Regions from separate parts of the Homo sapiens genome. Here regions 1 and 2 are each reported to be linked to region 3. Evidence: microRNA targets listed by miRTarBase, many of them from high-throughput screens and not tested one by one. Region 3 holds a microRNA gene; each other region holds the end of a gene's coding sequence.

Evidence for each region. The annotated mature microRNA hsa-miR-3688-3p reads UAUGGAAAGACUUUGCCACUCU and lies in region 3 at 2,671-2,692, shown strand. An mRNA with a match to its seed (bases 2 to 7 or 8) in the 3' UTR can be bound and repressed. Matches are read on the target gene's strand: a 7mer-m8 pairs with bases 2 to 8, a 7mer-A1 pairs with bases 2 to 7 and ends in A, and an 8mer does both.
Region 1: miRTarBase lists EEF2 as a target of hsa-miR-3688-3p. Seed matches in the 3' UTR shown: 7mer-m8 at 3,602-3,608.
Region 2: the mRNA of PDIA5 is a reported target of hsa-miR-3688-3p. Seed matches in the 3' UTR shown: 7mer-m8 at 307-313.

The regions. Positions count from the first base shown.
Region 1 is chr19:3,972,670-3,976,910 of GRCh38, forward strand. It overlaps EEF2 (eukaryotic translation elongation factor 2), which reads right to left. Exons shown (of 15, transcript NM_001961.4): 15 at 3,387-4,078. The coding sequence ends at 3,885. Among named protein-coding and RNA genes, the nearest start is that of DAPK3, 3.7 kb to the left of the region's middle.
Region 2 is chr3:123,161,675-123,165,915 of GRCh38, forward strand. It overlaps PDIA5 (protein disulfide isomerase family A member 5), which reads left to right. Exons shown (of 17, transcript NM_006810.4): 17 at 206-430. The coding sequence ends at 286. MIR7110 (microRNA 7110) reads left to right here and starts at 120; the gene lies at 120-205.
Region 3 is chr4:159,126,191-159,130,431 of GRCh38, forward strand. MIR3688-2 (microRNA 3688-2) reads left to right here and starts at 2,615; the gene lies at 2,615-2,701. All of the region lies in intron 1 of RAPGEF2 (Rap guanine nucleotide exchange factor 2), which reads left to right. MIR3688-1 (microRNA 3688-1) reads right to left here and starts at 2,704; the gene lies at 2,612-2,704.

The DNA.
Region 1 (4,241 bases), not on the chromosome of region 3:
CCGTAATCCCAACAGCTTGGGCAGCCAAGGCGGGCAGGTCACTTGAAGTAGGAGTTCAAGACCAGCCTGCTCAACATGGTGAAACCCTGTCTCTACTAAAAATACAAAAGTTAGCCAGGCCTGGTGGCACATGCCTGTAATCCCAGCTACTCGGGAGGCTAGCGCAGGAGAATTGCTTGAACCCAGGAGGTGGAGGTTGCAGCGAGCCGAGATCATGCCACTATACTACAGCCTGGGTGACGGAGGGAGACTCCATCTCAAAGAAAAAAAAGTGGCAGGGCATGGTGGCTAACGCCTGTAATTCCAGCATTTTGGGAGGCCACGGTGGGCAGATCACGAAGTCAGGACATCAAGACCATCCTGGCTAACACGGTGAAACCCTGTCTCTACTAATAAATACAAAAAATTAGCCGGGCATGGTGGCGGGTGCCTGTAGTCCCGGCTACTCGGGAGGCTGAGGCAGGAGAATGGCGTGAACCCGGGAGGCGGAGCTTGCAGTGAGCCAAGATTGAGCCACTGCACTCCAGCCTGGGTGACAGAGCAAAGACTGTCTCAAAAAAAAAAAAAAATTCAGCTTCCACATACCATCTTAACGTTTGCACTACTAAAAAAGAATAGGACCCGGTATGGTGGCTCACACCTGTAACCCCAGCACTTTGGGAGGCTGAGGCGGGCTGATCTCTTACGGTCGAGCTTGAGACCAGCCTGGCCAACATGGTGAAACCCCATCTCACCTAAATATACAAAAATTACACAGACCTGGTGATAGGCGCCTGTAATTCCAGCTACTCGGGAGGCTGAAGCACAAGAATTGCTTGAGCACTTGAATCCGGAGGCAGAGGCTATAGTGAGCCAAGATCACAACACTGCACTCCATCCTGGGCGATAGAGTGAGATTCTCGAAACACAGTAATCCGTTACCCTGACTGCTGGAAACAGCGTCAGTTACAGCCCCAATTCAAATGCGACAGCCAAACCAAACCTCAGGCATACCTACATGTGGGCAAAACCTCAGCTGAGGCTTGGCCTTGACAATGCAGGGCCAGAGCTGCCCCCGCCTTTGCCGAGAACCCCACAGCCCTACTTCACAGTCCCCACCTGCCTTCCTGAGGACAGAGTAAAAGGCGGAAAATGATCATGTTAACCTTATCAGCACTGACAAGATTAGGCCTCCTCACATCTTAGGCACTATTTAGAAAAACAAATAGTTTTCTAAGCTATTGGCGCTCACACCTGAAATCCCAGCACTTTGGGAGGCTGAGGCAGAAGGATCGCTTGAGCCCGGGAAGGAGACCAGCCTGAGCAACATAGTGAGACCCCATTACTACAAAAAAAGTAAAAATTAGGTCAGCACAGTGGCTCACGCCTATAATTCCCAGCACTTTGGGAGGCCGAGGCGGGTGGATCACGAGGTCAGGAGATCGAGACTATCCTGGCTAACACGGTGAAACCCTGTCTCTACTAATAAATACAAAAAATTAGCCGGGCATGGTGGCGGGCGCCTGTAGTCCCGGCTACTCGGGAGGCTGAGGCAGGAGAATGGCGTGAACCCGGGAGGCGGAGCTTGCAGTGAGCCAAGATTGAGCCACTGCACTCCAGCCTGGGTGACAGAGCAAAGACTGTCTCAAAAAAAAAAAAAAATTCAGCTTCCACATACCATCTTAACGTTTGCACTACTAAAAAAGAATAGGACCCGGTATGGTGGCTCACACCTGTAACCCCAGCACTTTGGGAGGCTGAGGCGGGCTGATCTCTTACGGTCGAGCTTGAGACCAGCCTGGCCAACATGGTGAAACCCCATCTCACCTAAATATACAAAAATTACACAGACCTGGTGATAGGCGCCTGTAATTCCAGCTACTCGGGAGGCTGAAGCACAAGAATTGCTTGAGCACTTGAATCCGGAGGCAGAGGCTATAGTGAGCCAAGATCACAACACTGCACTCCATCCTGGGCGATAGAGTGAGATTCTCGAAACACAGTAATCCGTTACCCTGACTGCTGGAAACAGCGTCAGTTACAGCCCCAATTCAAATGCGACAGCCAAACCAAACCTCAGGCATACCTACATGTGGGCAAAACCTCAGCTGAGGCTTGGCCTTGACAATGCAGGGCCAGAGCTGCCCCCGCCTTTGCCGAGAACCCCACAGCCCTACTTCACAGTCCCCACCTGCCTTCCTGAGGACAGAGTAAAAGGCGGAAAATGATCATGTTAACCTTATCAGCACTGACAAGATTAGGCCTCCTCACATCTTAGGCACTATTTAGAAAAACAAATAGTTTTCTAAGCTATTGGCGCTCACACCTGAAATCCCAGCACTTTGGGAGGCTGAGGCAGAAGGATCGCTTGAGCCCGGGAAGGAGACCAGCCTGAGCAACATAGTGAGACCCCATTACTACAAAAAAAGTAAAAATTAGGTCAGCACAGTGGCTCACGCCTATAATTCCCAGCACTTTGGGAGGCCGAGGCGGGCAGATCACTTGAGGTCAGGAGTTCGAGACCAACCAGGCCAAGCAAAATTCTGTCTCAAAATAAATAAAAATTAGCTGGGCATGGTGGCACATGCCTGGAGTCCCAGCTACCTGGCAGGCTGAGGCAGGAGAGTCCAGGAGGTGGAGGATGCAGTGAGCTGACTGCACCACTATACTCATCTGGGAGACAGCAAGACTCTGCCTCTAAAAAAGTGTTTACAAGGCCGGGCACAGTGGTACAATCCCAACGCTTTGGGAGGCCAAGGCGGGTGGATCACAAGGTCGAGTGATCAAGATCATCCAGGCCAACATGGTGAAACCTCATCTCTACTAAAAATATAAAAATTGGCTGGGCGTGGTAGCACACGCATGTAATCCCAGCTACCCAGGAGCCCGAGGCAGAATTGCTTGAACCCGGGAGGTGGAGGTTGCAGTGAGCAGAGATGGTGCCATTCCACTCCAGCCTAGCAAACGGTGAGACTCCATCTCAAAAAAAAAAAAAAAAAAAATGGGTTTCTAATAAACTAGTCAGGACTGGGGTGACCACAGAAAATCCTGATGGCAGATAGAACTTGTGAGCTCGTCAGCAATTCGGAAAGTTGCTGAAACCTGCGAAGTTCAATCCAGAGCCCCTCGCTCCACAGGGCCATCCAAATGCGTTCAAAGTGACATCTCGTAATTCCTTGCCGCACTGATCCTACTTCAAATGCTCAGCAGACCCGCGCAGCTGGCAGCTGCTTCTCTGAATGACACAGGGGTAGGGCATTCCCACCATTCCAGAACGTTCCACCTAACACTGAGGCAGCCCCAGGCTGCACCTAACTAGGGCCCGGGTCCCCTTCTAGGCTCCAGGGAGCCCAGTACTGGGCAGCCCCGCTCCCCTGCGAAGACACCGTGAAAAATGCAGAACAGAGTCACCACCTTATCAAATTTATTATTCCAATGGCACTAGTACAGCTGGAGGTGCTCATGGTGACACCGCACAGGACTTCCTGCCTGCTAGAAATCATCTACCCGCGTGTTCCTTTCCCCTTTCTGGGGCAAAAGCCACTGCGGGCCATGTACCCAAATAAACCTCTTAATGCGTTTGTTAAAATTAGTTTGGACATCTGAGTTTCCCTCTGAAGAAATGGAAAAAGTGTTGGGTGTCCCATCCCGCCTCCCCCTCCCCGACCGGCCCATTAAGTCCCTACTAAGAGGGCGTGTCTGCTGCCTCCGGACTCTGGAAATAAATATTGAAAGAAACGGCATCAAGTGTTATGGTTGAGTGATGGCACGCAGCGGGCCCCAGAAACCTCTCAGGGGAGCGTCGCTGTGTCGGGACAGTCTCCAGGTGTCGTCTGAGAATTCGAGGACGTGGTGCTGTGGGTGCTGCGAGTCCCCGGGGCGGCAGGCGCTGCAGGAAGGGCCGCCTACAATTTGTCCAGGAAGTTGTCCAGGGCAGGGATGCCTTCTTTCAGGCCCTTGCGCTTGCGGGTCTCCGCCACCACCTGGCTGGGGCGGCTGCTGTTGTCGAAGGGGTCTCCGGGCAGGATCTGCCAGTGGTCAAACACACACTGGGGGAACGCCTGGCCGCCCGTGTTGGACCTCAGGTCAGCGGTGAAGCCTGCAGAGGGAAGCGAGAGGCTCACTGGGCCATCGAGAAGGTGGCAGGGCAGAAGGAAAGTCCTGTCAGGAGCTCAGGCTAGTTCCTCAGCCTGAGTCACCCTGCAGACCAGACACTCGGCCTGGTGCCCAGCACTTCACGAAGGGCCTAGCAGGCCACTCAT
Region 2 (4,241 bases), not on the chromosome of region 3:
GGACTCCAGATGCCGAGGGTTTTCTCACTTGCTGGTCGGGGCTGGTGCAAGCCACGCAGACCCTCTCCACCTTGCAGAAGTCTGCCCACCTCTCCCTGTCATAGGAGTGACCCCCTGGAGGGGCTGGGGGTGTGGGGAGAGAGAGTGCACAGCCAGCTCAGGGATTAAAGCTCTTTCTCTCTCTCTCTCTCCCACTTCCCTGCAGGAATTGGGATTTACCAATTATATTCGAGCCCTCCGGGAGGGAGACCATGAAAGACTAGGGAAAAAGAAGGAAGAGTTATAATTCCTGCCTCAGAAAAAGCTTTTCCATTACACTGTGAATGATACCTGTTTTGTTGTTTCTGAATTTCCACATGTTCTGAAGACAAATTTTTTATAGCCGCTTATGGCCATTTTGTACAATTTTGAAATAAAATTAAACCATTTATTTGGTGGTATGGTTTATTTTCGTGGAGCCTGTACTAAAAAAGGTGGATACTCACATCCTCCTCATTCCACCACCTCTGCTGGGAGGTACAGAGCAGTGCTCCAGTGCCCCATCTGCATGGAGGTGACTCCTGAGGGTGTCGGCCCCCTGTCAGTCATTTGAGAGCAGAACAGGGAAACTGGACCGCAGAATATCCTGCTGGAAAATGACAAGCTAATGAGAGGAAATACGTCAAGATGATCAATGACTTTGGGAGGCTGAGGTGGGAGGATCACTTGAAGCCAGGTGTTCAAGACCAGCCTGGGAAACATTATGAGACCTCATGTCTACAGAAAATAAAGTTGCTGGGCATAGGGGTACATGCCTATAGTCCCAGCTACTTGTAAGGCTGGGAAGGGAAGATTTCTTGAGCCCAGGAGTTCAAGGCTGCAATGATCTATGATCGCATGACTACTCCAGCCTAGCTAGAAAGCAAGACCTGTCTCAAAAATAGAAAAAGAAAAAGAAAGAAAAAAACAAAAGATGATCAGGGAAATTGGGATGCTGAAGCAAATGGTAACCAAACACTAGCTTCTTCTGGATCATTGCGGTTTCAGCATTGGTGTGTTTCCTCTGTGTGTGTTTTCCTGGAACTTACTTAGGTATTTATCTTTCTCCAGCTATTTGTCTTCTCTTCGTCTCTCCATTCCCTCCCCAATCTCCCTTTAAAGAAAATTAAGTTGCCGCTTCAGGGGCATGAATGGAGTGGGGGAAGGGGGGCTCTGTGCCAGCTGCTTGCTGTGCACCCTGGCTGGAAGGGATGGTGTGTTCTCGAGGTGCAGATATTAGATCTGCTCACCAGCCCCCACCACCAACCATAATAACCCCAAATCTTTACGCCACGTTTTCCATGGATGGGTGCCTTGCTCGGCCTCCTGCCTGTGTACATCTCCTTTTTGACCCACCTTTCTGGTGAGTCCTCCTGCTTTCTGCATTCCTGCGTGACTGACACCCCAGCCCTGTGCCCAGCGGTGCAGGCAGAGCCTGAGCACAGCAGTAACATGTTTTGTCTGCTTGGTGGTATTTCTCCATGGACAGCAGAGTGGCCTTGTGCTAGTATCTTGTCTTTAGTTATAAGTAGCGGTCCTAGAGTTGGATTCCTCCAGTAGTTCAGGGGGGCGTTGCTTAAGCTGCAGTACTTGGAAGCACGCTCTGGTGGCCTTGATGGGGACTTGGCCTGCAGGAACAGCCCTCCTTTCCTGGACCCAGCTCCCTTCCTCCTGGCCTAAGTCCTTCCTGCTGATGAATCTGCTGAGAGGAGGACAGAGCCTCCAAGTTCTTCACAGCTGTTTTGACGATGGTGCCACTGTGGGTGGTTTCATTAAGGGAAATCAAGGTTTTGAGAGCCCTTGTTCTGTGCAGTTCTCCAACTTTCCAATTGACCCTCCTGCCAGTTCAGCTCTTCTCTTTTCCCCTAAGCACCCACTTCCTTGGCAGTGGCCCCTGGACTTCACCCAAGGATTGGATATGAAAGACAGAAGCATACATTTAGACATCATTGAAACACAATTATTGAGTCCCTTCCTGTTGGGGACCATGAACATCTTACAAGGTGTCATTTAATCCTGACACAGGTGTTTACCATTCTAGCATGTGTGTGTCTGGACATGGGTCTCCTTCGTTATTTGGAGTATTTGTAGGGGGAACATATTTGCTTGTGTTTTTCAAAAAAGTTTTTTGTTTGTTTGTTTTTGGGTTTTTTTTACTGCACCTTTTCAATAATAATCTCACAAGAGCCACTTCCTGGCTGAGGACCACTAGTGCCCACCTGCGAGGCACAGGGCTTACTTTCTGGCCATTCCACATCCTCAGAGTTCAGATTTTCCTGGCTTAGCTTCTATTTGAAGACTTAAAAACATGAAATATTGTCAAATATAGATTTAAAGAAATTTTTTAACACATCATGAAATGGAATCCTCTTCACATCCCTATTTATTGACTTTGGGCATGACCTCAGCAAATTTCGTCGCAGCTCTGGGCAGCTCCCCCTGCGGACAGAACTCTCTTCCTCCACTCGCCCCCTGGCATCCGGGTTAGTTCTACTCCCAGTCACCATGCTTGGTTCTTTGTGGTTTCACTGATGTTTAGTGCAGACCTCCTCCCTCTGCCCCACTGGAGGGCTTGCTATCACCCTCCTCTGTTCGCCTGGATCCTGCGTTGCAGGCTGATTTCTCTGCAGGAAGTACGTGAGTTAGGGGAGAACTGATCCCCATCTTTATTCTGGTGCCCCTTGCCCAGCAGTGAGTCCCCATCACCACCTAACTGGAGCCTTCCGAGCAGGACCCTGTCTCTCTTACCTTCCTCATGCTGCTCCCTCCCCTTCTAGAGGTGTTTGGCTTCCAGGAGCTGTTCTGCGCCGGGCACGGGAAGGTGATGCTTCCAGGTTCAGAAGCTGGTTTTCTCCACCGCAACGTAAGAAGATGTGGAATCTCATCTGGAAAGCATCAGGCCCTCTTAGGAAGGCAAAGCCTATGTCCAGGGGTTACATCACCTGCCCACATCACATGGAATAACACAGGCACCAGCCCTGCCCGCAGGAGGCTCCCAGTTTGAGAGTGAGTGCACATTGGTGCTCAGAACCAAACTCTGTGCATTGTGCTCTTACTGTTTCCCATTCTTTTATTGTTGACTAGAAGAAGGAAGCTGATATTCTTAAGCTATCTATCAAAACCAAATTATGCTTATGGTCCCACCAAATATATGTCACCTCCAAAATCTTCTATTTTAGGCCAGTGTTATCCAATAGCCATTAGCCACATATGAGTATTGAGTACTTGAAATTTGGCTACTGCAGCTGAGTGAAGGTGTGTATGTCTATGCCTTTTTATATTGTGGTAAAATATACATAGCACACAATTTACCATTTTAATCATTTTTAAAGGTACAATTCAGTGGCACTAAGTACATTTACATTGTTGTCCAACCATCATTATGATCCATCTCTAGAACTTTTTCATCAACCCAGACTGAAACTCCATAACCATTAAAGAATAACTCTCCATTCCCCACTCCTCCTAGCCCGGGTAACCACTATTCTACTTTCTGTCTCTATGAATTCCACTATTCTAGGAACCTCATATAAGCAAAATCATACATCCTTTTGTATCTGGCATATTTCACTTAGCACACTGTTTTCAAGGTTCATTCTTGAAAGTATGTAGCATGTATTAGAATCTCATACCTTTTTAAAGGCTGAATAATATTCCATTGTATGTGCATACCATATTTTGTTTACCCATTCATCCATCAGTGGACATTTGGGTCAGTTTCACCTTTTGACTATTGTGAAGAATGCTGCTGTGAATATAGATGTACAAGTAAATACCTCTGTGACATCCCATTTTCAATTCTTTTGAAGGTGGAGTTACTGGGTCATCTGGTAACTCTATTTTTAGTTTTTTGAGGAATGGACAGACCATTTTCCACAGTGGCTGCACCATTCTGCGTTTCCACCAGCAAGGCACGAGGGTTCCAATTTCTCCTCATCCTCGCCAACAGTTATTTTCTGGTTTGGTTTCATTTTTAATAGTAGCCATCCTAATGGGTGTGAAGTGGCATCTCATTGTGGTTTTGAAATGTGTTTCCCTAACGATTAGTGATTTTGAGCATCTTTTTTTTTTTTTTTTTTTTTTTTTTTGAGACAGAGCCTCACTCTGTCACCCAAGCTGGAGTGCCATAGTGCCATCTTGGCTGACTGCCACCTCCGCCTCCCGGGTTCAAGCGATTATCATACCTCAGCCTTCTGAGTAGCTGGGATTATAGGCGCCTGCCA
Region 3 (4,241 bases):
TTCAAACTTACTGTGTAGCATTTTATACATTTCTAGTTGTGATTTTTATTTTTTAAAGGACGAGAGTTAAACACAATTTTCAGGAAAACACCTATCTCCAAATTGGTTGAAACAAAATACAAAATAGCATAGGAGAGAGCAATTCTAGAAACCTTTGAAAGCCCAGTGTAAAGCAATTCATCATTCTTACCAAGCTGGGTGAAATTTTTAAAAATAAGAAAGTCTCACCAACACAACTTAAAATCTGGCTTTTTGCATATTTTTAGTTTTCTTTATATATGAAATAAGTGAAGTAATTTTGATTGTAAAATGTCATTTATTCTATCTCCTGTCCAGGTTTTAAAAAAAAAAAAAAGCCTGATGCCTCCCTGTCATCTCTCAGAAGATTTTAAGACTTTCTCAGAATTTTCTTTTTAACTTACTGGATAAACACTCCTCTTTGCTGATTGTGAAAATGACCATCTTAAAAGTGTTTACAGGAACCCACACTTATCCTTTTCCCCCTCTGCTTTTAGGCTAGGTCATAATTTCAGTTTCCCTTCATTTTTATTTTTCTCAGTTGATTATAAGATCAGAGCTACAAGAGGAAAAATGCTGTTATAGACCTGTTTATTTAGGATGGTCTTTTAGAGGAAAAAACCCGAGTCCTCATTTCTCATTGTCAAGTAGAACCCCATTCATGTGCATGGTAATTGTCAAGAATCATATTTGTAACCACAAAGAACAATAATCTCACACTATCTTCTGGGTAAACTGCTCCTACGTTTGAATTGATTTTGTAAAGAGGTAACTGTGGTTTGTGGATGAAAACATTTGTTTATTTGCATTTTTTGTTGTTGTTGTTTGTTTTCTTGAGACGGAGTTTTGCTCTTGTCGCCCAGGCTGGAGTGCAGTGGTGCTATCTTGGCTCACTACAACCTCCGCCTCCTGGGTTCAAGCGATTCTCCTGCCTCAGCCTCCTGAGTAGCTGGGATTACAGGCACACGCCACCACACCAGGGTAATTTTTGTATTGTTGGTAGAGATGGAGTTTCACCACATTGGCCAGGCTGGTTTTGAATTCCTGACCTCAGGTGATCCGCCTGCCTTGGCCTCCCAAAGTGCTGGGATTACAGGTGTGAACCACCGCACCTGGCCTATTTATTTGTGTTTTATGATACTATTTACCTTCTCACTGCCACCATTCTCAGGGCTTTATCAGTACCCCACAAAAAACACACCTTTTGATTTCCTCCCTTTTTACCTGTGGTAGTAACTCATTTAATGCCATGTTCCCCCCTTCATGAAGCATCTTCTAGTTGCTTAGTCTAGAGGTTGAATTTTTCTTTATGCTGTCACTGTTTTTAGCTTGCGTTTCTTCTGGGCATTCCTTGGCAATGCATAATTTCGTAATTATTAAGTGTACATATCTCATTTTTAAACTGCAGAATTCCTCAAAGGTTAAACTACCTTTATGACCTTTATGTCTCCATGGCGTTTTATAATACCTTAGCATTCCTTAAATATTCAAATGTATAATATGAAGTGTGTTTGACATTCTCATAGTAATAGAATAAGAATACTAATGGGGTATATAGCTCAGTTTGGTGCAGTTTTTAAAATTTAATTCATAGGCAGTTATTTTTATTATTTGAATACAACATTGTTCAGGCTTGTAAATTATTTTAAGACAGTCAAAATTGATTCTTAGAAAATTGCCTGGTTAGGTGATAGCAATTCAAATTTTACTTAGTCACCATGATTTGTGTAAGTTACAGAAGCAAGTCAGAAGCAAAGTCCTGAATTCTAGGCATGGTGTTATGAATCTCTATGCCCTGGACTGCAGTTTATTGCCTTGGATTATATTTAGGTATGTATATATATGTTTGCTTTCCTTGAATTTTGAACTCCCTGTTTTATACATGTACCTTATAACCTTTCTTTTGTTAGGAGATACTTTAAATTGTACGTTCTATTTCATCTAGTAAAATCCAAGAAGAAAAAATACTGAGACTAATAATGTCTTAACTTTTACATTACTGTCAATCTAATAGTACATTTTGGGGCCTAATTCTACTGAGGAAGACTAGCTGGAAGAGAGGGACTGATGTTGTATCCAGTTACTCTCCACGTGACCCTGGAAATTTTCATTGGATCTTAGTTTTCTCACCTGTAAAATGGAACACAATGCTTTCCATACCTATTTTCAGGGTTACGTAAGTTTAATATATGAGAAAGTACTTCGCAATGGAAAAGTCTACATGAATGTAAAGTATTACTATTGCTGACATAATAAAAATATTAGTGTCAGTAGAAATTGTGAGTCATTTATAAAGATAATAGGCTAAGATCTTCTTAATATTCTTAACATTTGGCTAGTAGTTTATTCACCCCTCTTTTTGGTGAATACAAAGCAGTAAAACCATGTTTTCAAATTATTATTTGGTTATGCAGGTTAATACTTATATGGATTATTTTAGAAGTACAGGCTTCATGTTGAGTTTTGTAAAGAGCTTTCTCTTTGCCAAAACATTTTCAGACTTCAAAGAACCATTGTGTAAAAACTCTTTTACACCAATGTATCTTAAATAGTTTTGATCATTTTATTTAAATAAAGAAGCTGAACCAAAAGTTCTTCACTTTAAAGAGTGGCAAAGTCTTTCCATATGTGTAACAGACATACATACATACATATGGAAAGACTTTGCCACTCTTGAAAGTGAAGAGTGTGTGTATATATATACATATGGGGGGTGTGTGTGTGTGTGTGTGTGTGTATATATATATATATATAAATCTATTTTAAGTATATTTTTTGGAATACATATTTGTAGAAGAAAAGATTTGTAATTGTATGATATGAATGGATGCAGTCTTTTGATTATTGAAATCTGTCATCATTCTGTATTTAAATTTGAATGCTGCTATGTGATCTTAGACATGGAGGCAGAAACTTGCATAGAAATGTAATAAGAATAAGAATCTTGAATAGAAATCTTATCGCTTTCTTTTTGAAGAATTTGAAAAGCAATTAGAATTGCTTTCATATTATAAATGCTCACCATTGAAAGGTGCAATATTAATGAATCTTTATATTATGCCTCTAGTTATCTCTTAAGAGTTACTTTGATAATATAGACCTTTTGAAAGTGCCACACTGATGGTTTCAGGTTGCCTGTCAGTGTAATAATACATAATGCTTACAGTTATGGTGTCAGTTCTTTATTTTATGTTTAGGGAGCACATATCTCAGAACAGTTCAGGAAAGACATAGAAAAGCAGTTGTCATTTATAAAGTGTGTGTTATGTGCCAGAAAGTCACCTAGATGTTTTCTTATGGTTTATTCAGTTCTAACATCAACCTTATAAAGCATGAGGTACTATTATCAATTTACCAATGAAGAAACTGAGATGCAGGGATTAAGTAATTTGCTTAAGAACAAATAACTGATTTCAAAGTCCCTATTCTATCCACTCTACTCCCCCTATAATAAGAGCAGGTGTAAATGTCTATGTTGTTGTTAATAAAGACTTTTACAAAATGAAGTTCTAATTTAGTTAGGATGTTTTTCTCTTTTTCGAGACAGTGTTACTGGAAAGGGGTCCCAATCCGGACCCTGAAAAGAGGGTTCTTGGATCTTGGGCAAGAAAGAATTTGGGGTGAGTTCATAGAATAAAGTGAAAGCAAGTTTATTAAGAAAGTATGGGAATAAAAGAACGGCTACTCCATAGAGCAGCCCTGAGGACTGGTGGCTGGCTGTTTTTATGGTTATTTCTTGATTATATACTAAACAAGGGGTGAATTATTTATGAGTTTTCCTGGAAAGGGGTGGGGATTTTCCCCAGAACTGAGGTGTTCCTCCCTATTTTAGACCATACAGGGAAACTTCCAGACATTGCCATGGCATTTGTAAACTGTCATGGCGCTAGTGGGAGTGTCTTTTAGCAATCTAATGCATTATAATTAATGAATAATGAACAGTGAGCACTACCAGAGGTCACTTTTGTTGTCATCTTGGTTTTGGTGGGTTTTGTCTGCTTCTTTACCTTGTCTTATCAGCAGGGTCTTTTTGACCTGTATCTTGTGGTGACCTCTTATCTCATCCTGTGACCAAGAATGTCTAACCTCCTGGGAATGCAGTCCAGTAGGTCTCAGCCTTATTTTACCCAGCCCCTATTTAAGATGGAGTTGGCTCTGGTTCAAATGCCTCTGACAACAGGGTCTTGCCCTGTCACCTAGGTGGAATTGCAGTGGTGTGATTA